2 linked regions of the Homo sapiens genome follow. The protein of the gene in region 1 interacts with the protein of each later gene in a pairwise test. Each region holds a gene or a part of one and is shown on either strand. Other genes may lie near its edges.

Region 1 (8,260 bases):
CACAGTTAAAAAACCATTTCCAATCACCACATCTATCCCCTTTCAGATCCATCACGATTCACCAGATGAAGCACCCTTACAAGGCCAGAATAAACTCTCCATTATCTCTATTAAAAAAAAAAAAAAAAAGCCTAAAAGCAAATCAGGTAAAGACCTTTGGGTATATTAAAAAAAAAAAAAAATCCACTTCTTTTGTAAATATAATACACAGGTAATATGTGTGGGTTATATGATAACAAGGTAACTTCTGACAGCTTAGAGATGGAAAGCAAATGACTAACCTTTGAGTTCTACCATAAATTAACAGATAATACGTAGGGAGAATTCTTAAAACCAGGGGTCTACAGACAGATGGACAGACTAAAATCTACAAAAGATACTGCATATAAAGTTTCAAACCAACATATATACACCTCAGGAGAGGGGGACTGTAACTTTCAGTTAGTCTTTATAAAAACAAACCACAGATGGAATGGAGGACCTCTGATGGCAGAATTCTGTCTAGAACCTGACTGAATATACGAATATACACTAAGAACATCTGTGTCAAAATACCTAAATAAATCAAGGCAACCCATGTCTATCACAAGAGGTCTGGCAGCTACAAAGAAATCAATGGGAGAAGGTGTCCAGATCCACAGATGAACCCATTCAATCTAGTCCCAGTAGCAGGTATACATTCCCACTCTAGAACGGGCAATGCTTTGTGCCATTAAAAGCATCACATAGCTATCCCTTTTTTATCCCGATAAGGTGCTTAATGTGTAACATTAGTTATACATTGCCTCATCTTCTTTAAACTATCATCTTTGAATCAACAGTATTTACTAAATGCAGGTCAGAGATGTAAGGTATTCCAGATGAGTATCAAAGTATCCAGTAAACTTTTAAATGTACTTCTTAACTATAAACTAATAAATTAGCATTGCATTTTCATACATCTATTAATATTAGTCTCAATATCTTTAGTTAGCATTCCTGGATCAACCCACAGGCACTAAACAAGACTGTTTCTGTGCCTGCAAGACCCTGAGACTGGGAAGCCTACCCTGAATCTTTCCCACCTCTATGCATCTTACCATTCAAAACTCTTAACACTTGACAATTTTCAAAAAGTCTTTTTAGTAAAACTGAACGCTTTCAAGTTACTCTACTTGCCTTCTCCAAATTCCTATAAAACAGAAAGGGTTAGAAATTATTCTTCCCAATAACATAGAAAGGAGAAGAAAAAAACCCTACATACAGCTGAAGCAGTCTCCTTGCTTTCAGTTAAAGCTCTCTCCAGGTCACTCAGACTCTCTAATTTGGTGCTTTTTTTCTTTCCATTTGGCAAGGGCTCCTTTAACTTTCTCTGCTTCCTTTTCAATCCCAAAAGGCCAATATCACATCGAGGACACAGCACCTAATGTGGGACAAGGCACAACCAATGGTAAAATAAATTTCAGATAAAGCATTATGTAGGAAGTCCCAAAATAAAAGCCTAAGCAGTAAAAAGGATGTGCATTTCTTAGTATTGAAGATTTTCTTTGGAACATGCAACCCTGAGGCTCTCCTTTACAAAAGGAGGAGGAAGACTCATAAAAGATAGACTGATTCCTTATTCAATTAAGTAACAAGTTAAAAATGTGATATATACTGGTTGATCCCAGTCATGATGCACAAGCAAGTTTACAGAAAATACAAAAAGTGCAGTTAAAGCACTTTTAAAAAATGGGGGAGATCATTTATCAGGCTTACTAAATTCAGGTGGGCGAAGCACGGCCAAGTTTAAGAGTCCAATTTCAACACAGAGGAATTTCACCCAATAGGAAAAAATTTTCTTCTTTAGATACTGTTATGCTAAATCAACCAAGAAAACATTTAAAGGTTGCTTCACCAGAAAATTAGAAGAGTCTCCCTGGCTTTACGGGAAGAACAACTCACAGAATATAGATTAATCTGTGATGTCATCTTTGTATGTGATGAACTGCATGTTTTACCAAACTAGGAGATCTAAGGTCTTGCAGATGAGCTGGTTGTAAACTTACCTCTAAGAGAGAATATGGAGAATTCTCAGTCAAGAATGTATTAACAGCACATTCTTTCCAAGCCTGAACCTCAGCTACTAGGGTTTCCAGTCTTGGCAAAGAATTCAGATGTACGGGGATAGATCGGCCTCGTGTAACAAGTTCTATGAGTGTGTCTAACACTGGCACACGTCCTCCAGCCTAATAAGTCAAGAAAAATTACAGCAGTTTAGAGAAAAGAACACTTCTATGAAAAACAGGAAAAGCTTAATTCAGATTGGTCCATTGAGTACTTCAGATTACTCCATGATCTCAACATGCTAAATTCACAAACGCTGACTAACCTGCCAGCTGACCAATGATATTGGGGGTAGAAGTGACATTTGTTCCTTCATTACACAAACAGAGAACCTAGTTTGGGTCTTTTGTTGGTGGTGGTGGTGGTAGTGTTGTTTTTTTTTTCTTTTTTTAAGACGGAGTATCACTCTTGCCTGGGCTGCAATGCAGTGGTGCAATCTCAGCTCACTGCAACCTCTACCTCCTGGGTTCAAGCAATTCTCCTGCCTCAGCCTCCCGGGTAGCTGGGATTACAGGCACCCATCACCACGCCCAACTAATTTTTATATTTTTAGTAGAGATGGTGTTTCACCATGTTGGCCAGGCTGGTCTCAAACTCCTGGCCTCAAGCAATCCTCCCACCTTGGCCTCCCAAAGTGCTGGGATTACAGTGAGCCACTGTGCTGGGCCTAGAGAACCTAGTTTGTGCTAGGCTCTAAGGATACAAATGTGAACATGGCATATACTGTGGTCCCTTTGTTCTATTTATACCCTTCTAAATTCATTCATCTCATTGGTTCCTATTAACAGTTTGAAAAAAATTTCAACAGAAATGAAGGTTTGTAGTAACTCAAGACTTTCATACTGAATTACACAAATAAAAGGCAACAAAACAATATTTTACCCCAATCCACTCACCAATGATTAATTAAAGCAACTCAATATAAATTATTCAGGAAACTAAAATATAAGTTGAGACAGCCCAGTGGTTCTCTAACTTTACCATGTATAAGAATCATCTGGAAGGCTTGTTTAAACACAGTTTCCTTAGTCCTATCCCCAAATATTCTAATTCAGTGGGTCAGAGGAAGGTCCATAAATTTGCACTTCTAACAAGTTCCCAGGTAAAGCTGCTGTTGCCGATGCTAATACTGCTGGTCTGGGAACTGTATTTTTAGAAAGAGATAGCCAAACTAGGAGAGTAAAAGCATTAAGGTTATGGAGGATGAAATGCATTGGTGTTGCTCCAATACAATGTAAAACTTAGCATCACTAATGGTAGGTCATCCAGATATATCTCCTGTTGTGATGCAATATAGAATATACAGTATTACCTGACATTTTAATGCATTATATTAAAAAAATGTTTAACTTGGATGCACCAGGGCTTTAAAACTAACTTCCAATTTATAGGAAATACAGAGAACAGAACACTCCACAAAGAAACAATCAAACAAATCCAGAAGGTGGAGCATACCATGGGATAACTGTCTAGTCAGTGACATGAGAAAAAGTGGGGTGGGGAGGAAAACGCTACAAGATTAAAAGAAACTTAAAGAGATGACAATTAGGTGCAACATGTGTTTCTGGGTTAGACAAACAGCCATAAGGGACATTTTTGGGACAACTAGGGAAGACTGGGTAGGTTGATATTTTGCTGCCTTTGATATTTATTCTTACAGAATTAAATCTGTTAGGGCATAAATGTTCTGATGGACACTTAAGAATGTGACTCATAAATTAATGCTATTCCTATGATATTTAATTTAGAAATCCGAGTGCTTCCTATGTGTAAAGCAGAATACTGCATAACATTTAAATAATCCACTAAATAGGAAGTAGTTCCTTGTTGTTAGTCATGTGTAGCAGTCCTTAAATATATGATGCAAAAAAAAGGTAGGCTACTTTTTCAGGAATGAAGCAAAAAACTTGCCTTTTGCCCTTAATGGCACTGTTACAAACATAGTAAGTAGCATATACATATAAAATATGAAGGAAATAAACTCATCCAGAAGCATGCCCTTGCTTTCTGATTTTATATGTCAGCCTCTCCTTACTGCCATGACTTCACCTTCTGGCTGCTAGCAATCATGGAGTAAAAAGGAGGACCATAACTAAAACTAATTACTACAATACCAACTATCATTGACAAGTGCCTGCATCTAAAACTCTCATTAACAAAGTTTATGTCCATAGTAAATACTTTTGTTTTTGTTTTTGGCTTGCTGGAGTCAGTCCTTAATTATGTAATCTCCTCAAACAATATATCTTCTTTTCCCTATTAACAAGAACAGATGCAAACATTTGTCTAGAATTGTCCTGTTTGGTATTTCTTGTTAGCAATTAGCCAATTAACACCACTTAAAATTACACAAATATTCAGAAAGCCAGATCGTATTTTATTTCTAGAATTTGAGGACTTCAACAAAATAGAACTTGAGACTTTTTTTTTTCTCAATAGGTCAGTAACACCTATTGGTTTATGATGATAAGAGATAAGGGAAGACATCCCCCATCAAACACGTTTCAAATTAAGTCATTCAGCCAGTCGTCTGAAAACTGGGAAAATCATATTAAAGAATGAATTCTTTTTGTACCTTAACAATGCTACAAGTGAATTTAATTCTTTTTTTAAACTTATATACAGGTCAATAAGTATAACATCTAGCATAAAACCACAAATACTTGGTGGAAATGACTTTGGATACTTTGGATAATTACTTTGGAACTGGGTAGGTTTTATTTCTTTTGTAGGGTTGGGAGGGTACTTTTAAGTCACTACTTCATGAAAATTCTGGGCCTTGGGGCTTAGCTGGGCATTTAGTCATATAACTAGATTCACTGAATTTGCTATTACTGATTGTCTGAACTTCAAAGTTGTGGACAAGCCAACAAGAGGTAATCATACTTATCAAAGAGTAGAAAACTACTTTCTCTCACTACTTCATTGTTAGCTCTTTTGCTTCAATCTGCAGTCAAGTACTCAAGTTTGTTATGAAAGACTCCCCAGCTCCCAGAAAAAGTTGGTGACACTGTCTAAGCTTTAAATATTTGAGACAACTGGTCAGGATAATAGCTGGTAAGTACATCCAAATAAGTATGAATAGAATTAGTCTTCTGGTCAACCCCTAAAATACTGAAACTGTGCAGCAAGATCCAACGTATTATTCTTCACAACTTTCCAATATTGCTCTTTTTTTTTTTTGCCTTTTTTATTTTTATTTTTATTTATTTATTTATTTTTTATTGATCATTCTTGGGTGTTTCTCGCAGAGGGGGAGTTGGCAGGGTCATAGGACAATAGTGGAGGGAACGTCAGCAGATAAACAAGTGAACAAAGGTCTCTGGTTTTCCTAGGCAGAGGACCCTGCGGCCTTCGGCAGTGTTTGTGTCCCTGGGTACTTGAGATTAGGGAGTGGTGATGATTCTTAATGAGCATGCTGCCTTCAAGCATCTGTTAAACAAAGCACATCTTGCACCGCCCTTAATCCATTTAACCCTGAGTGGACACAGCACATGTTTCAGAGAGCACAGGGTTGGGGGTAAGGTCACCGATCAACAGGATCCCAAGGCAGAAGAATTTTTCTTGGTACAGAACAAAATGAAAAGTCTCCCATGTCTACTTCTTTCTACACAGACACGGCAACCATCCGATTTCTCAATCTTTTCCCCACCTTTCCCCCCTTTCTATTCCACAAAACCGCCATTGTCATCCCGGCCCGTTCTCAATGAGCTGTTGGGTACACCTCCCAGACGGGGTGGTGGCCGGGCAGAGGAGCTCCTCACATCCCAGTAGGGGCAGCCGGGCAGAGGCGCCCCTCACCTCCCGGACGGGGCGGCTGGCCGGGCATGGGGCTGACCCCCCCCACCTCCCTCCCGGACGGGGCGGCTGGCCGGGCAGAGGGGCTCCTCACTTCCCAGTAGGGGCGGCCGGGCAGAGGCGCCCCTCACCTCCCGGACGGGGCGGCTGGCCGGGTTGGGGGCTGACCCTCCCGCCTCCCTCCCGGACGGGGCGGCTGGCCGGGCAGAGGGGCTCCTCACTTTCCAGTAGGGGCGGCCGGGCAGAGGCGCCCCTCACCTCCCGGACGGGGTGGCCGGCCGGGCGGGGGGCTGACCCCCCCACCTCCCTCCCGGACAGGGCAGCCGGCCGGGTGGGGGTCTGACCCCCCCACCTCCCTCCCGGACGGGGCGGCTGGCCGGGCGGGGGGCTGACCCCCTCACCTCCCTCCCGGACGGGGCGGCTGGCCGGGCAGAGGGGCTCCTCACTTCCCAGTAGGGGCGGCTGGGCAGAGGCGCCCCTCACCTCCCGGACGGGGCGGCTGGCCGGGTCGGGGGCTGACCCCCCCACCTCCCTCCCGGACGGGGCGCCAATATTGCTCTTTATGGATGCACTTACACATTCTGTATATACTTTTTAAAACCAACCTGCAGGCCCTCTACATCCTGAAGCCAGTCTCTGGCTCTCTGCACTGAGTCTTTCAGAGCCGCACCATTGGGCAGATATGCAGGGATCTCTTCGATTTCCTTTACTGCCGTAGCAAGGCTATTCAATGAATGTCGTGGCCTACAAAATGCAAACAAAGACTTCTTAGCATTTTATATGATGGTTCATTTTTCTTATGGTTACCAAAAAAACTAGCATTTCAAAGGAAATTCAGTATGGCAAATAATTTTTTTCAAATGACATTGTCTATTCCTGTTGAAAATTATCTGCACTGTTTTCTTGCAGAACAGTGCCTATTAACTCTCACACATTTCTCTTTAAGACTCCTTGGAACCGTATTAACTGTGAGTTTAAACAGCTTCACCTATTTGTAAATATTTTCCTCTCTCAAAGACACGATATTAACAGGATCCAGGGAAATTTCATTAAACCAACTCTAGAAAAGGTGTGTCCAATTGAATTATTCATTTTTAATCAGTAAAATAAGAAAAAATTAACATTCTTTTACTCAGGTCCCAAAGCAGCTCCAAATATCTCAGCTATTTCTACATGTCTTCCACATGCATAATAACCGCAGCTACTGAGCACTTGCCATAGACCAATCATTGTGCTCTGTGTTTAAGCTGGAGATAACTGTCCAACCTTCCCAAAGAAAGAGAAGTCTGCTTTTTCACCTGGCCTTGAGGAGACTCTTGGCTTTGTCGTCCCAGTGCTCTGACACTGTGAGCAGTTCCTGCAGCCGGGCCATAGCTTTCTCCACTGCTGAATACGGGGCCAGCCCTACCCCTAGGTCTATGAGACGTCTCATATCATCTAAAGTAAGGGAGCTGGGGTCTAGGCAAGCTTGCTGCACCTCTTCTAGCCAACGGGCTTGTTCCAAACGGATACGCATCTCAGCAAGCTGTGGAAGTTCAACATCAAATTCAAAGCTGACATCTAGCAAGTCCTGCAGCTCCGCAGCACTAGGCGTTTCCTCAGAGAGTAGTTTCTGACTATGCTGTTGAAAATCTTCTACACGATTCAAGAGATCCTAAAAAAAAATACACAGGTTGTTGCATTAAAACAGTAATTTCAGTAATTGGCTTCTTTCAAACTTAGAATCTTAAATTCATATTCAATGAGATCCCATTTAATTTTAGTAATAATATAGGTAAATAAGATAACACATAAGCCAACTAACAGCAAATACTAAGTGACTATAACAGACACCTTATCCCAGCTTAAACTAGCTGAGGTCACTTTCTCTTTTTTTTTTTTTCTGCAACCTCCGCCTCTTGGGTTCAAGCGATTCTCCTGCTTCAGCCTCCCAAGTAGCTGGGACTACAGGCATGCACCACCATGCCCGGCTAATTTTTCTATTTTTAGTAGAGATGGGGTTTCACCATATTGGTCAGGCTGGTCTTGAACTCCTGACCTCATGATCCACCTCCTCAGCCTCCCAAAGTGCTGGGGTTACAGGTGTGAGCCACCATGCCCAGCCAAGGTCACTTTCAAAGTAAAAATTTCCAACTTTATTTCCCCTCTGTGGATCTACTATAATCTCTTTATATACATATACCACTCAATAGGTTATTAAAAGCATCTGCAAATAAATGTACATATTAATCATCAAAGAAGATTACTTAGTAATATCAATAGAGTTTATATACAAAATACAGGATTACCAAAGTATTCTCCCACACATCCCTCTATGGTTACCTTTAGTAATGGTGTCTGACTGAGGACACATGGAAGAGCATACAGCTGTGTTACA
Region 2 (16,737 bases), on another chromosome or scaffold:
GATTCAGACCTACCTTCCGTTAGTTATTGGCCCATGTGTAAAAGCTAACGCAGTAATAGAACGTGGGGAATTTTGTGCATCTCTGCCAGTATGTGGTGTTTTTCCTTCACCGCAGAGTAAAAACCTGCTAGTAGACCTAATATGAGAGGAAATCACAGCACCAGCCCTCAACCAACATTCTCAGAAAGGGATGGGCCTAAAAAGGGTGATGACAAGGGAGAGGTTAGCTAAAATGGTAATTGACTGGAACCTTCATCCAAAACTCTTAAATAATCTGACCCCAAGTTTTGTTAGAGGCTTGCAAATGTTTGGCTGGCTTTTTAAATGTTTTGCGTGAGAGGTCCTGAGTTGCTGTGGTGTTAGACTCAAAGAAAAGGGTTCTTGTGAACTGACTGTCCAGGCTAAGCCAAACTGTGAATATCTGGGAACCACTCACAGACCTGCCCTCCACTTCATTCCAAATGTGTGCATCCCAGCGACTTCAAAGCAAAGAAACCTAGAAAGAAAGGTACCACTGAGTTAAAGATTAAGACTTTTGAATGAAGGGTGAAATTTTTTTCTTTAAAGAATGAGAGAGAGAGAAAAAAAAAAAGAATGAGAGAGAGACAGTAAAAAAAAGAAAAGAAAGGTGAGCCTGGAATTTTTGTTCTTTGTTCTGGAGAAGCATCCAGCATTTTTACAATAGCCTTAGCAGCTCAATGTGGCTAACAATCAGGTACCTTCCATGAAAGAATCTTGAAGTCTGTGATTTAAACCTCAACTGTTACTAGGCCAAAAACTAACCCAACTCTGCATATTCTTGTCTTACATTGTGAATGATTAGTAAGAATAAATGCAGCGATTACCTACACATTAATGACCCTCTGTAGTGCAGCTCTTTTTGTTTGCCAGAGTTCCAAGAGGCCTAGAGAAGCTAAGAGGGACTAATAGAGTATCTTCATGGGTTAAAAATGAAAATTACAGGCAGATAATTATCTTTGGTATATGGTTACACAAACATGTGCAGCCTATAGATTAAAAAAAAAAGTATATGGCAGTGTGTTCAAAATAACTAAGACCCAAATCAAGTTCTATTTCTTTCCATCAGAAGTCAATCTTCTATTTCATGCAGCCAAGTCTTCTCTAAGTTGTGTTCAGGATATTTGTCCAAATTTTGATTTTGTGATGTTTTTCACACAGTTAGACATAAAAGGATAAAAAGAGATTATCCTGAAGGGCACAGGACACATGCTATTTACTGCATCAAATAGAACATAAAATGATCCATGTACAAATGCTTCTCCCAGTGGCTAGGTATTCAGCAGCCTCAGTGCCTGCTTTTCTGTATCACATTCCTGTTGACATAATACAGAGCATGTCTCTTCACAGCCAGTTATGTAGCTCTTTTCTTCCAAGACAAATGGTGGTCTCATGCCATCCAACCCCCACTACCAAATTTTCAAGTTCAAATCCATATACAACTGAAGCAGATAAAAGGAATGAAGGTTAGCTTTCAACCTCCTTTTGTTAGGTTTTGCAATGCAGATTTTTTAAATATTCAGAATCTAATTTCCACGTAGCAATGCAGTTTGAAAGCTATGACAGAAAACTAGACTCATCCATCAAGCACCATCTTAGAGATTTTCTTCTTGAATGCAATTAAGACTGCTAATTACGGACTGAAAAAGATAAATCCTTTATCTACACATGAAGAATCTGAAGGTTTCTGTTCACAGGAAAGCCACATGCCCTTACATGACTAAATATGCCTATATTTATTTACTTTTAAAAATTGAAAGTGCTTGAAAAAGAATCTGATGACAAATGATGAAAGTTGCAAAAACTCATGGGGAAAAATGTATTTGGAGACTCAAGATGGTCTTGATTTTATCCTGAGAATTTTCCACAGTAGTTTATATCTTGGTATTGAAGCTCCAGAACTGTTGATTCCGAACAGCCTCTGCCTGACAGGCTGTGCGAGACATCATGGATTCAGAAACCCAGTGGGAAAGCCAGTGCTATTCCAGAGGATTTGCAATAAAAAACAGCTCTTTTCTTTTCTAGGTGGTGCAGTGATGCTGCTGGTTTATGAATACACCTATTCATGGCTTCAAGAGAACTGGTGATTGCCTATGAAGTGTTTTTCCCCCTTGAGATAATGGATATTTGCTATGCAGCACCATGAAGAAGAGAGACTATCGATCGGCCAGGTGTATAATTATGAAGGAGAAAACTGTTCAAGAACAAAATCTATTTTAATACTTTAAAAAATGTCTATAGGCAACTTGAGATTATAGTTTTGGCTGTATAAATAAAACTGTGAGAAGAAAAAAATAATATGAAACAATGAGGTATTTAAAGTGAATATAGAAAAATAGCATAGAAATCATATATTTATTTCATAAAATAAATAGAAACTTTGTCTCCTGTGTTCCTCTTCAATGCTTCACAATGAAAATTCATTGTATTGATCAGCATTTTTCCTAAGAGGTCTAGAAATGCTTAAACTATTGAAAATAAATCAAATTATTCAAAGACTGGATTAAAAAAAAGTTAAGCCAAAATTTAAGCAGTTTTTATAATGAATTAAATTATTCCATAAATAATATTTAAAGAGCACAAGAAAAATTTTTTAAAGTGCACTAAAATGACCTTTTAAGAATGTTTAATTTTATGAATACTATGTTAAAATGTAAATCTGTTGGTTTTTTTTAGTAACTATGCACATATCAGCTCTATTTTCCTACATCTACTTTATATCTCATATTGCTGTAAGATAATAAATAGGTATTTTAAAACATTGTTTAAAACAGAATGTTAAAACACTGTTGTTTAAGCATGTTTAAATCAAGGTATTCCAAATCTCTTCTAACACAAGTAGGAAACATGAAATAAAATTTACTTTCCTCCACATAGTTCTCTTTGAAGATAAGTTTTGTTGATGAGATATTGTCATGTTAAATCACAAATTGGAAACACCTTTGGACCCATTTGTCAGCCATCAGTATTTGCATCCAAATACCTTTATTCAGCATGCCTACCTGTGCCATTTTTAGGAAGAATGTATAGAACAGAACTGCATTTTCAGGTTATTAGTTTTAAACGACAACTTCAGGTGGGAAGTCAGCTGTCTGCAGTATTAAAATATGTATGATGAAGGGGAAATGTTCTGAAAAAGAAATACACTTAGCATTTCTAAGGATTACTATACTAACATGTATCAACAAAAATATCTCCTTGGTCTTGATGTAACCAAACTTGATTTTATATCTGCATCCAGAGATGATGCTGATTCAGTAAAGTCAACAAGAATAACTGAAAGTCCATATGACACCTGTCCTAAGTTACTACCGTGGGCTATTTCTACTACGGGGCTATTTCACTAAAGCATTTTGAAAATAAAAAGTAAAAGATAACATGGTAATTATTACTTTTTATTAATTTAGAGCATTTGAAGTATAAAAATAAAAGGCTTTTGACATACTGTATATACATACATAGCCTTCTGTTGTACATCCTTTCCAACGTGTTTTTTAAAATTTATATTTCAGTCCAATATTCAATAAAAGGGTCATTAAAAACAAAACAAAATTGTGAAAAAAAAGAAATAAGAATGTGTCTCTGTTGCACAACTGCATTCTATCCTTGCAGGTAATATTCTTACATCCAATGAGAGCGCTGCCTGCATAGAGGTCATGAAATTGAACCTTTAACCTCTCCATGTGGATCAGATAGAAAAGGATTTCTGAAGAGTGCATTTGCCAGTTTAAAAGCAACACTTTTACCATCTATGAGATAGAGGAAATATGTCAACATTAACCAATAATAATCTTTAAAAGTTAACCCTTTAATCCATCCTATTTTCCTTCTCGTATTTTAAAAAGTGGCTTTAAATCATAATTTTCTTTGAATAGCAAATTGTATCTGATATCTTTTAAAAATTACTCCATGTGAATTCACTGTTAAGACCTAGAGGGAGAAAAGGAAACTTCAATACCATTAATATTAGATTTTTTAAAATACAAGAACCAGAAAAAAATTATAAATAGCACAATAACAAGAGATTTCTTAATTTAGATAAAGAAAATAACATTATTTGCATTTCCACACAAGCAAGTAATATTTTTTAAAGCCCCCTAACAGCCACCTAAAAACATTTGATAAAGAATAGTTCTGTACCTTACATCAGTTTTTCAGATGACAGGAGAGTCCCTGTATGGTATGGTTTTAAAGAAGTCTCCACCAAAATATTGGATTGGATCTTTGTTCCATTCAGTTTATAGTCTATTTTCTCACCAGACTGGGAACTCCAGATGTCAATGGAAGTTTTACAAGATCAAAGGAAGACTATGGCCCTGAGAGTTCATCTGCTCCTTCTGCTTATTCTTCTCCTGAAGTTATAATCCTCTATTTGTAGCACTGAATTTCGGTTGCTTTAGAAATAAATGCAGTTCAAAGCTCTCTATAAGATATCTGCTGTCTGAAAAAAGCAGTCACTCTAACATAATTTGTGTGTCAGAAATCTGCTTACTGTTTACATCCTAGTGATTTGAAAACCTAACTAATCTAGCCATCTGAGTTTTAAACGAAGCCACGAAACCGATGTGGTGGAACCGCATTGCCATGTAGACTGTGCACAGCACAGACCGGAAGAAATTAAAATCACCTAGGGAATCCATCTTCAACATCCATATCCAGTGAGGTGCTCTTTTAGTTATTGCACAGAATTAGTACCAAAAAACCCTCAATATATTAATTTTCCAACAGCTGAATTGTACCAATGTCCTAAAAACATATTTTTAAGCCTATATTGCCAAACAGGAAGAACTTCCTAAACAGAAGGGATTAAAAACTGTAGAATTTTGCCCCAGAAAATCAATTGTTTTAAAATACAACACATACTCACATGCTCACACACACATATACTCCACAACTGTTATTAACATTAAAGTGAAAAATAAATTGGTCTAGAAAGGTTTATGAGTTAAACTGTGTCCTGTAATTTCAGAAATGAATAAAGGGAATTTGTTAAAATTAAATAACATTGTATTTCTAGTACCACCACCAGTTTACCTACATGCGAAACATGCTTCTGTACAACAATGTAAACTTCACAGCAAGCCATTGTTACATTCATTAGAGCAGAATTTTCCATTTTCTTTAAATTACAACATTATTTGGGGCTGAGATTGCTGAACACACAGGTAAGCCAACAATAATAGGACAATTTAGTTTCACAGTGGTTTTCTTAACACAAAGTTCATTTTAAGCATCTTTGCAAAACATTTCACATTAAACTTAAGTTTCTAAGTGACTTCCTTTAGAGCCTTCTTGTTCAGATATTTTCCACCCTCTTGTCTTTATATGCTTAGCATGTGTGTTGTTTGATTAGGTACAAAATGGGAGACTGGCTTGTTTTATCTGTTTTTCGTGTCCTCTGCTGTAGAAATAAAGTGTCCTTCATGAGATGTTGAAGCCTTCACTGCATACACAAAATTTGGGGGCAAGTCCAGGTCCAGGAGCCCGAGCAGCCCACCACCAAACAGAGACAAAGACGTTGCCAGAAAGTCACCTTTGCAAAAAAGAAAGAAAAAAATAGAGAGGGGGTGGGGCTGAGGGGAGGGGAATATCTTATGGAATGAAGACACAAATGCACCATCCAGAGTCCGTATTTACAAACTAATAGAAAATATAAACATTATTGTATTTGGAACCAAGTCAAAACACCAGGGAGAGCTAGATTCAGATATTGCTTGGGTTCTACATATATTTTTCAACAAAATAGGTCATGTCTTAAACAAAGGATCACTCAAACAAGTCACTTATTGATTTGTTTCCTAATGATGAATTAAAGCTTACTTGGTTACCATATTTGATTAGAGGGTGTAGCATAATTTTTTCTATAAGTATTTTCCTTTATTGATTTTGCAAAATCTCAACAATTGCACATTTCAAAAGTTCAGGTTGATTTAGAATAAATATACACATGTGGTTTTACCAAAGACTAGTTTGTAAAGTTCCTTAAACCCTTTGAGGGGTGTAGGTTTCTTTGTTATGTTAAGACAGTATGTGGGCAACACAAATGTCTCATTCAATGCTTATTGTTGCTCTTGTTTTTAAATCCTAAAGTCATGTCAGTTTTTCTGCAAGAGAAAAGTTATGGCAAGAAATATGTAAGTGTCATTAGCACAAAGGATGTGAGTCCGTACAGCCAGCTTTCAAGGCAGAAGGGTTGGAGGGCAGGAGGGGTGGGATGTGAGACCTGGGAATTGGGGGAGGAGGTGCTGAGACAGGGAGACCCGGGTGAAGCTGCTGGAGACGGAATTTCCCATCAGAGCGCGGAAGCCGTGACAGAATGACTACCTTCTCTGGCTGCCTGCATTCCCTTGAACGCCAGCGATGCCGGAATGTCACAGTTGTGGGGAGACAATGAGGTGCCCCCAGCATGTTGCCACCCATGTCCAGCAACATAACCAGAAGGAGCAGCACTGTAGGTCATGTAAGGCGACACTTGGGCTGGGGTAGGGTAAGGAGCCATGCTGGATGCTGACACAAAACTGCCCACAGCTGGGAGACCATTTGGTGCCTGAGAGGAGTAGAAAAGAAGTGAAAAATAATCACATTATAGGAGTGAACATTTCACACGTTCTTAGAAAGAAGCAGAACTTAAGTCTGAGTAAGCCAGCAATGCTCTGACTCTACTCTCCAACTTTTTAAAAAAATTTGAGCTTTATTATATTCTAAAGACATTCACAGTCTTGCCACTTAAACAAACATAATGACAAGATATTATTCTTTCCACAAACATTTAGAGAAAGCTGCAACCAGAAAATTCGTAGTATTTGCTTGTGCCACTTGGAAGTACAGGAAGGAGGTGCAGGGTGAGAAAAGAATTAATGGCAATTAAATACTCTTAGAATCTGTTCGGCTGTCCTCATTGCCTTTGTCAACCTTCCTGGGACTTGGGTTTTGTTTGGCTCTTTTGTTGAGGCACTTGTGACAGGCCTGGTTGGTATAACTTTCATTTTCAGTAAAGAAGGGCACAGACTGCAGCCTGTCATGTTAGAAACGCACAACAAACACGACCTTCGTTAAAGAAAATATAGACCATATTTTAAGAGATCATATTGAAAATGCCCGTTGGACAAAGGACATACAAAAATCAGGCACTTTGTCTTGTAAGGATTTTTAAATGAATATTGCAAGTGCCTTTTCCAGGACTGTTTTATCAGAAAGGAAACTGTCTTTCCCCATATAAAAGAACTGCATATGCCTGGTTTTGAAACTGGAAATTTTGCTTGCAAAGTTTTTGGGTCCTGTGATGTGAGTTTTTAAAAGCCACGTGGATAAATCTCTTGAAGTGAATTTAGAAATTAAAATCTTTGTTTGCAAACACAATGCAGCAGTCCCGGCAGGCGAGCCTGCCGAGAAACCAGTGCTGTCTTGGCATCCAGTGAATTATTGTTGGTATCGTTACTATTAACAACACTAAAAACACCCTGATTTTTAATCCTGATTCTGGCATGAACACTGGGCATCCTTCTTCAAGTAGTCTAATTTTTTCCCCTCAATTTTTATACTCTTTAGAAATAAAGTGTAGATGCTGTGTCCTGATAGTTACATGAATGAACTACCATTTCAATATATTTCCTAGTGAAAATACGATGTAAATACTAGAATTTTATGAGGAAAATTGATTTAATCCTTAGAATTAAGTTAATCAGATGTATGTTAGCTAGGTACTTTTTCCCGTTCAATTGCAACACAGGAATTACTTTCTAATTTAATTTATTTGGGCTATTGTTTTCACTTCTACATCTATGAGAATGCAGTGGTGCGGTCTCAAAAACTATTTTCTCAATGCAGAGTAAATGAATATGTACATGGAATAGAATACATACGTGGGTATGACAACATTACTCATGCATTTCTGACAAAAAAAGAAAAATATTAGAGGGGTTAGCCTTGTGTCTATGCTCTGTAAGAACAAACACCTCATGTTGTGTTTTTCAATGTTGGTTCTTTGAAAATAGGGAAAGAGAAAGGAAGCTAAAGTTTCTTAAGTGTGTCCTATGTCCCAGGCACCAAGAAATATCCAACATATTTTACTGAGTAATGAGTATTAATGAATTATATAGTTCATTATAAATGATTGAGTTTATCATAATTACAAGATAGTGTGTCACAAATACAACACAATGTTCAACTGAAATTAAAGTGTATTTTAAGGGTCCCAGAGAATGATGCTGCTGCATTTTTTAAATCAAGAAACTACCGCACATAACTGTTGAATACAAATGAAATCTTATCCTCTTTTTATACAAGGATATAGATTAAGAGGTTTAGCCATGTACCCTCAACCAATTGGCAAGCCAGTGGCCATGTGTTAAAAAAATTTATCACCCCTGCCCAATGCAGGGTCCTCTGTAGCATATCATACTGTTTTTCCTGAACACTTAAAAGATAGATGCAATTTAATTTAAAACTAGTGCATCTTTTGAGATAACATCTGGTAACAAATTCTTTTCTCTCCTAGAACATGATTCTCATTGTCAGATCCCTTCTAAAAAAAGAATAGTTTCTTCCACTTTTTGAGAATGGCTGATTATGTCTCAAAGGAGACACACTTTAAGGCTCTCAGGAGATGGGTATCAAGATAGAGAACTATCAAATTACAGGGGAAAAAATCTAGTTTTGCATAGAGATTATAGTTTTAATCATTTTTATTTAGAATTGTCCCAATAATCTATGATAAATGAGTTTGGAAAGAAATAAATCCAATTCAGTTATGGAAAGGTGTTCACATCTGTATGTGGTGTTAACTAATATTTTCATTTCCAGCATTGACTAATGTTTTATACTACTGATGCCAATGTGAACTAAGAATAATGAAATAAGAATGCTAACATTAAAATTACTTCTAAAATAATAAAAATCTTTGGCCAACATCATATAGGGACATAAAGTTAAAAAATTTAATATTATACATGGCAGAAACAATGTTCTAGTTAGCAGAACAGAACTGTTGGCGAGTTCTATTTTTCATCACAGCTAAATTTTTCCTACCCATTCTTTTTTCTTTGTATTTTATCTATCATTCAAAATTACAGTTCTCTCTGAAATCCTTGCTTAGTCATCTTCCCTTTTCTTACACCTTTGCCCTTGGAACTCTTGCTCATTGATCTGCCCCATTTACTTGGACTCTTCAGTTGTTTTGTTGCAATGTCTATGGTCCCCTTACATGGACCCACTTGGAAGATGGCCCTCAGAGACATGCTGCATTGAACTTTTATCTTAGATAATGTTCCTGGAATTTAGGGGCAGGCAGGACATTGGATTTAGGCCTGTATTAACTTCTAGTGCCTTATTTATTCCATGATTACATTCATTTATCAAGTGTAAAAAAATGAGCAAATTTTTCCATGTTTGTCCAACTTCTCATACTTAATGCACAAACTTGCTTTATGTCATTATTCTTAGTACTAAATATTTCAAAGTTCTCTTAAATCCACAATATTTATTTAGTATCATTTTAGTGATGCAATCCCTTTGTACTGCAGAAAGACAGGGTAGGAAGAGAAGCTCGGAGATGGTTGATTTCATCTCATAGAAAAAGGCGGCCGGGCACGGTGGCTCACGCCTGTAATCCCAGCACTTTGGCAGGCTGAGGCGGGCGGATTGCCTGAGGTCAGGAGTTCAAGACCAGCCTGGCCAACATAGTGAAACCCCGTCTCTACTAAAAACGCAAAAATTAGCCGGGTGTGGTGGCAGGTGCCTGTAATCCCAGCTACTTGGGAGTCTGAGGCAGGAAAATTGCTTGAACCCGGGAGTCGGAAGTTGCAGTGAGCCGAGATCGCATCATTGCACTCCAGCCTGGGCAACAAGAGTGAGACTTCATCTCAAAAAAAAAAAAAAAAAAAAAAAAAAAAAAGGAAGAAAGAAAGAAAGAAAAAAGAAAAAGGCAAGGAGAGGCTAAAACGTTTGCTTAAAAAAAAAAACAAACATAAATCTTTAAACTTAAACAGTATAAAAATAGCCCTTAGTTTTCTCTCAGGTTAAATTATGACCCTAGCTTGGGGGTCTGGAGAGTTTTGTCTTAATTTTACTTTTTACTTTTGAAGCTCAGATTTATAAATTTAGAAAAAAAAGGAGCAAGTAAATGTGCTTTAAAATTTACCTGCCTCCTGCCACCTTCATTATTTATTCATTTTAGTGACTCAATAAACACATCAATTTTCTCACTATTAATTTTGACACATAACATTAGTAAAAGATATAAATCTCTACTGGGTCAAGTAATTGTTATTTATGAAGCAATCACTGAAAAAGTAAAATTTTCCACCGCAAAGGAAAACAACTACAGGTAGCATTGATGTTTGTTTATTCTTTCCAGTAAAAGAGTACATGACTTAAACGTCCCAAATCGGTTTAATGTTTTCAGTGAAGGGCATGTAATTAATCTGAAAAGCTAGTTAGGCTGAGTAGAGACTACCAAATCTACACTATAAATATAGTGGGAGCAAACATGCTAAATTACTCTATTTAATTGGATTGTAAATATGATTTATAAATCAACCAACATACGGAATCCCCAGGGAAGAGTAAACAAATTTTCCAAATGAAACCCCAGCAATGGGCATGTAATGGAAATCTCATTTTTGAAAATGACTTTACCTAAAGATTCCATAAATAAGACTTCAATCCATCAACTCCTTTCTCATGTGGATCTTCCATGAAAGGCATGAGAATTCTTTCCCCTGAAAGAACTGTGCAAGGGTGCTCTCTATAGCAAACTATCTTCTACCTAAATTTGAGAAGGAGATTTACTAATACAAAGCAAAATAGACTAAATTGCATACCCTAGAAAAAGTAAGTTACTGCTTTGTTTTAATACTTTTAGGAAAAGACCAACTTCATCACACTGACATTAACGGAAATAGTCTAGAAAAAAATATATAAGATGCAATGTAGTTCTTCTAGTTAAGGTTATCACAAGAAGAATGAAAGTACAAGTTTTAATTTCGTTTGTTCCAAATGTTCAAAATACAGATTTACCAATTTTTTAAAAGTAACTTTGGTGAATATGTTGAGGAACTGTATTGGCAGAGGGCTAGATTGTAAACTGTCTGAGGACAGGGACTTGCCTTAATCATCTTGTATCCCCACAAAACAGGATACATCATAAGCATTCCACAACCATATGTATATTTAAGTTAGTATAGGTTTGTGAAAGCAAAAGATGTGACACTGTAGCTTAAAAAACAAAGCAAAAATGTAGGCACCGTTTATCACAAAACAAGCATTACACTTTAAGCAAGCAAAATGAATAAAGCTGTTGAAAAAAGTAAACAGAAGTTCTAACCTAGCCATTTATTACTTGATTTATGGTTATTCCATTTATCCTCCCTCCTCCAAGTAAAGGAAAATACGTTAGTATCAAAACACTTGTGACCACCATAAAACTGGTATGGCAAATGTCTGGCAGTTAGAGGTTATAGACCATTATTCAAATTCTGGGAATTGTCTACTCAACATTATTTATCGTGAAGATAAATGCAAATAACAGTGCCAGGTCCTCTACCCACAATCTGCTTTCACTTATCAGTTCAACCTGGTCCTCTTATGATAAAATGAATTTACCTTGGCTTTATAATAAAGTAGATTTAGCCACAAATAGAGATGTGCTTCACCTAGAATTTCAACCTCGATATCATAAGCAAGAAAAAGTTTTGGATCTGAAAATAAACAAGATTTTCTCTTTTTTGGTGAACTCATTTTTCTGTCATTCTTCCATTTTTAATGCATTATGCAATGACCTAGTAAAACATACCTGACAAAATGAAATGATGGTTATAAATATGGTTTCAACATTCATCCAACAAGATCTTAATTATGCTTACTTATCATATTGTAGATGTAAATGTCTCTAAGAAATGGAAAGCCGCTATTTAAAAGCTTTTCTAAATTTTATAATTTTCCAAAATATTATTAAAATTGACATAGCCTTGAAAAATTTGCAATTACCTTTCCCTGCTATTTTATACAATACATTTTACTGATACATGATCATTAATTTTATTTTGAAATACTACTGGTTAAAATGTAACCAGGTCAAAGAATGTTTTTCATAACAGATAACATTATGAATTTCAAAGACACTCTGCTGGCATTTGCCTAAGATTTCATTGTCTATAAATCATAACTTATTTACAAAAATTAACTTTAATATGAAGACAAATTTAGTGCAATATCATTTATATCTTCCTGAGAATAGTACATCCACAAGGACAGCCAGTTTTTAAAATAATACACTAGAAAATCACATTCAGGATTCTAGAAGACTATCTTCACTTCAAATGCATGTGCAAGTAAATGCTTCATAAGAATTTCAGATTATATCTTTAAATTCAACTATTTTCACAACTTAATTCTGAACTTTTAAAAAGTTCAAGTATTTATAGACTATTCTCTATTTCTGACATCTCAGTCTGTAGCTAGTGTTATATTAAACTTGCCAAATTAATATCTGCAACCCCAAAATGAAGATACCCAAAGCTTATAAATCTGTCACTCCAATTACTTTAGAGTATCAGATATGCAATGTATCTTTCTTGAGACAGTATGCCCATTTGTAGAAAATTTTTCAAGAACTATACAATTATTTATATATAGTTTGAATAAAATTGAGGCATTAATTCATGAAATACTTCCTAAAAGGGCAAATGTATTCCAGTCCCTATGATTCTCTATATAAGGTTTTTTGGCCACTCAATTTTATTCCATTGGAGTTTTATGCTTTCAACAGAAGAGAACCGGCCATCAGGAAGCAGAGAACATTGTTGCCATTCAGAAGTAAATGGAATTAAGTACTTCTAGCCCCAATATTAACTGTGGGTATAAAAAAGCCAAAATAAATATTCTATCCTCAGAGACAATAAGGACTTCTGAATGGCACTGCAAAATATTAATTACAATGTAATATTAATATGTAAGACAAGTTAGAATATTCTACACTGAATTTTCAAAGACAAAAGATAGGTATATGCATAGCTGAAATGTGCATACAGTTTTAATTACTAGGAATCAGGACATCTGTCTTTACAGTTTAAGCTGAAAATAGAAACTCTAGATTATGGTAATCAATAGTATCTATACTCAGTTGCATAGTTTAGCCCTTTGGTAATTCTACAGATGTCCTCAAGAAAAATATGCTTTAAGCTCTATGATTCTGAATTCTCAATTTCCTTCTTTGTATAATAAAATTAAACTAGTATCATATAATTTTGCACTATTTAATAACAATCACAAATGCCCTGAAAGTGGGAAAAATTTTAAAGCTTTTTTTTGGCCAAAGACATTCAAGTTATTGTCCATAATATAAGCAGAGGGAAAAATACGTGTTACCAGAGTTTACATTTTGGTTGAAATATGCTGATTCCATTTTGAAAAATAACTTTTAAAAATAAATCTGCCCTTTGAATATTGGTAAGAGAAATGCACATATATGGGCAACACTTTACCTTTGTATGTTTATAAACAAGTATTAATGTGCAATTTAACCTTACATGAAATCAATGTCTAAAGTTCAAAACTGCTCAGAAAAATGGCACGGCTGAACTTGGCACATCTTCAACATTAAGCACTATTTTGATAATTATCATAGAGTAGCCACTAATTTATATTATTCTTAGAAACTTTTCAGGTTTTGAAATTTTACATCATTTGAATTATCTAACTATTAAATACATTGCAATGCAGAAGATTAGCATATTGCAATTAAGAACTTCGCAAATGTAAGTTTCATATAAATATTTTTATTCTGGAAAAAATAGCTTATTAAGTATTTAGAGCAATATTTATTTGGTTACTTATTTCTTTAAATTATATTCTTTTATAAATGTGATAATTTAGTGATTTAAAATTTAGTATATAAAATGTAATCTATTTTTAATAATCAGAATATCAATTATTTAAAACTTCAAATTTTTTATTTTAAATAATTTGTCAGTTTAGTTTTGAAGTGTATTATAAATTAAGCATTTCCAAACAAATTTCAATGTTAGATCTATAATTCAAGGAAGAGAAAATAAAAATTACTGGCCGGCACGGTGGCTCACGCCTGTAATCCCAGCACTTTGGGAGGCCGAGGTGGGTGGATCACGAGGTCAGGAGATCAAGACCAGCCAGGCCAACATGGTGAAACCCTCTCTCTACTAAAAACACAAAAATTAGGTGGGTGTGGCGGCGCGTGCCTGTAATCCCAGCTACTCAGGAGGCTGAGGCAGGAGAACCGCTTGAACCCGGGAGGCAGAGGCTGCAATAAGTAGAGATCGCGCCACTGCACTCCAACCTGGCGACAGAGCTAGACTCCGTCTCAAAATAAATAAATAAATAATAAGTATAAAGGGTTTTTTTTGGGATTATGACTGCTTGATATATAAACTGGGTTCATCAATGACATGTGGGAATTAGAAACTTTTTCAACTCTATACTTCACAATGTTATTCCAATCAATGATGACCTAATAAAAAGCACTGAGCGCCTATTAAATGCTTGCTTCTATGGTAGGTGCTTTATATACACTCTTTCTATTGTTTGTAACAAAATCTCTTGAAGCTTTTTGACTATGGTCTCTCAGAACAAAGTATACTCTGATAAATATTACTTACTTTTACACGTGTCTTTTTAACTGCCACTTAGAACCACAGACAATACTTAATAAATGCTTACTATGTGCCATATGGTTGCATTATCTCATTGAATACTCATAACATCTCTGGGTTGGGAATATCATTTCCCTGTTTTAAAGATGAAGAAATAGAGACTAAAAATTAAATATTTTCCTAAGAAGTCGTACAGCCAGAGATCGGAGCTCCTAACCATTGTACTATTCTGCCTTTTCTTTGCAAATTACGAATTAAGGGTGGGTCGTTTAGTAAAAGAAAATGACAAACTTCCTTATCATTTCTCATTGACATTCTTCACAGTAGAAACAGACTAAGGAAAAGGGCTCTCTTTCCTTGCTATTTTCTGTGTTATTTGCCATTGGAGAGCCACTAATATGTATTCTGATTCTATTTCAACAAAATAAGAGAGGGAAGAGGAAGTGGAAATGGGATTTGTTACAGAAAATAATGACTAAGATGTTTTTTCAAGTGAATAAGAGGAACAAATTCCACTTAATTTTAAAAGCTGATTTTGACAGACAAAAAAGCATTAAAAATTTTAAGTCTTCAAAATAATAAAAGGAAAACTGAATAGCTTGAGGCTTTGGAATTGAGTTTGGGATTAAGAGATTTGCAAACCTACTGGGGTCTGCTGGGGAAACCTTACATTGCCTTAAGGTCCGGTTTTTTGAGAGTTTTGAACTCTTGACTCCAGGACGGTGATGAATTTAGACTTAAATCTGGGGCTTTTGTTGTGGTGGTTGTTTAGCTTTTCTCGGGGGGAAAATAAAAACACGAGTGTTTTAAATTTTCCTTTGGAGACATGAGGGAGGGACGGAGGGAAAGAAAAATTAAACGGTCCACAGCCAGTCCGTATAATTTGAGGTTTTCTCACTAACTTCCTTGGGAGATTACAATGTGACCTTTAGTCGAGAAAATGGTAGCTTTGTTACGTTTATCTGGGTGCCCCTCTCCGCAGGATTGGCCAAGCGTGTTTGTCCGAGAGCCACCGGAGAGAAAGTCCGAACGTGAGGACCCCGCAGCCGCAGTCGCACCGTGGGGCCGAGACCCGGGGCGCGCGTTTCGCGGGCGTGAAGGCGCGGCTCTGAGGCCCCAGGGCTGCTCCGCTCGGCCCTTCAGAAGCGCCTTCTTTGGTTAACTCTACCCCCAACGAGAGCCGCCGAAAGGGCTTCGGGAGCCGCCTCCCCAAGCTCCCGGAGGCCGACAGGCCTGGAGGCGCTTCCCAGAGCCTCGCCCCGGGGAGCTGCCGCCCCAGACCCCCAGCGCCCTGACGAGCGCTCCCGGCCCCTGGCGGGGGTCGAGGCCCCAGCTCCGCCTTCCAAGGCTCAGGCCTCTGCTTCGCCCCAGTCCACGAAGGATCTGGCTCGTAGCAGCAAAGGGACGCCAGCCTGGGCTTCTCTCGCGGGAAGCTCAGAAAGGGACCCATCACAAAGTGTTCCATCGCCTAAATCCCCGCCGCCACGCGGCCCACCTGGCCTGACCCTCGCCTCCTCACCTGACCGTACTTGGCTTCCTGCTCCAGGGCTCCCTTCTCCAACCCGTTCACCGCGTGCGGGGCGGCGGCGGGGAAGTTGTTGCGGCCCAGGCTGCTCCACTCCTCCACCTTGGGGCTGTGGTAGGGGGAGCTGTCGCTCACTGATGGAGAGAAGAGAGGGTGTCAGGCCGGAGGCCCAGCCCGCGCGCCCCACTCTTGAGACGGGACCCAAACCCGCGACGGAGAGCTGGAGGGCTTAGACCTTGGGTCGGCTCCCTGCCCTTGGCCTCCCGAGGGCGCTGGGCCCAGCCGCGACCTCCTGTGCTTCCAGCCCAGGGCCTGGTGAAGTTTTACTCCCCTCAGAGTAGGCCTTTCCAAATTCTCTGACCCACGCCTGAGGGAAGACACTTTTTTCTTTTTCAACCGGTTTTTGATTTCCCTTCGCCCCTTTGCTCTCCCAGGGCAAAGGAGTGGAAGAAACCTAAATCGGAGAAGGAACCCTTAAGGCTGCACGTGCCGTTCTCCACCTCCTCATTCTTAACCCAAGGCCGACTGGGGGTTGACAACAATTTGGCAGTGGGGCTGGCTGAAAAGAAA

What was found.
Region 2: the proteins of KDM5B (region 1) and PAX9 interact in a two-hybrid assay, tested with the Homo sapiens proteins (one study listed by BioGRID).

Annotation. Positions count from the first base shown.
Region 1 is NC_000001.11:202,734,186-202,742,445, forward strand, and holds part of KDM5B (lysine-specific demethylase 5B), read right to left. Parts: coding exon 8,206-8,260; intron 7,538-8,205; coding exon 7,182-7,537; intron 6,628-7,181; coding exon 6,489-6,627; intron 2,208-6,488; coding exon 2,028-2,207; intron 1,403-2,027; coding exon 1,244-1,402; intron 1-1,243. UniProt on the Homo sapiens protein: Histone demethylase that demethylates 'Lys-4' of histone H3, thereby playing a central role in histone code. Does not demethylate histone H3 'Lys-9' or H3 'Lys-27'. Demethylates trimethylated, dimethylated and monomethylated H3 'Lys-4'.
Region 2 is NC_000014.9:36,666,026-36,682,762, reverse strand, and holds the end of PAX9 (paired box protein Pax-9), read right to left. Parts: intron 16,302-16,737; coding exon 16,162-16,301; intron 6,566-16,161; coding exon 6,311-6,565; 3' UTR 4,280-6,310; coding exon of another isoform or gene 4,279-4,279; 3' UTR 3,401-4,278; downstream 1-3,400. Other genes in the region: SLC25A21 (mitochondrial 2-oxodicarboxylate carrier), read left to right, coding at 2,044-2,105. UniProt on the Homo sapiens protein: Transcription factor required for normal development of thymus, parathyroid glands, ultimobranchial bodies, teeth, skeletal elements of skull and larynx as well as distal limbs.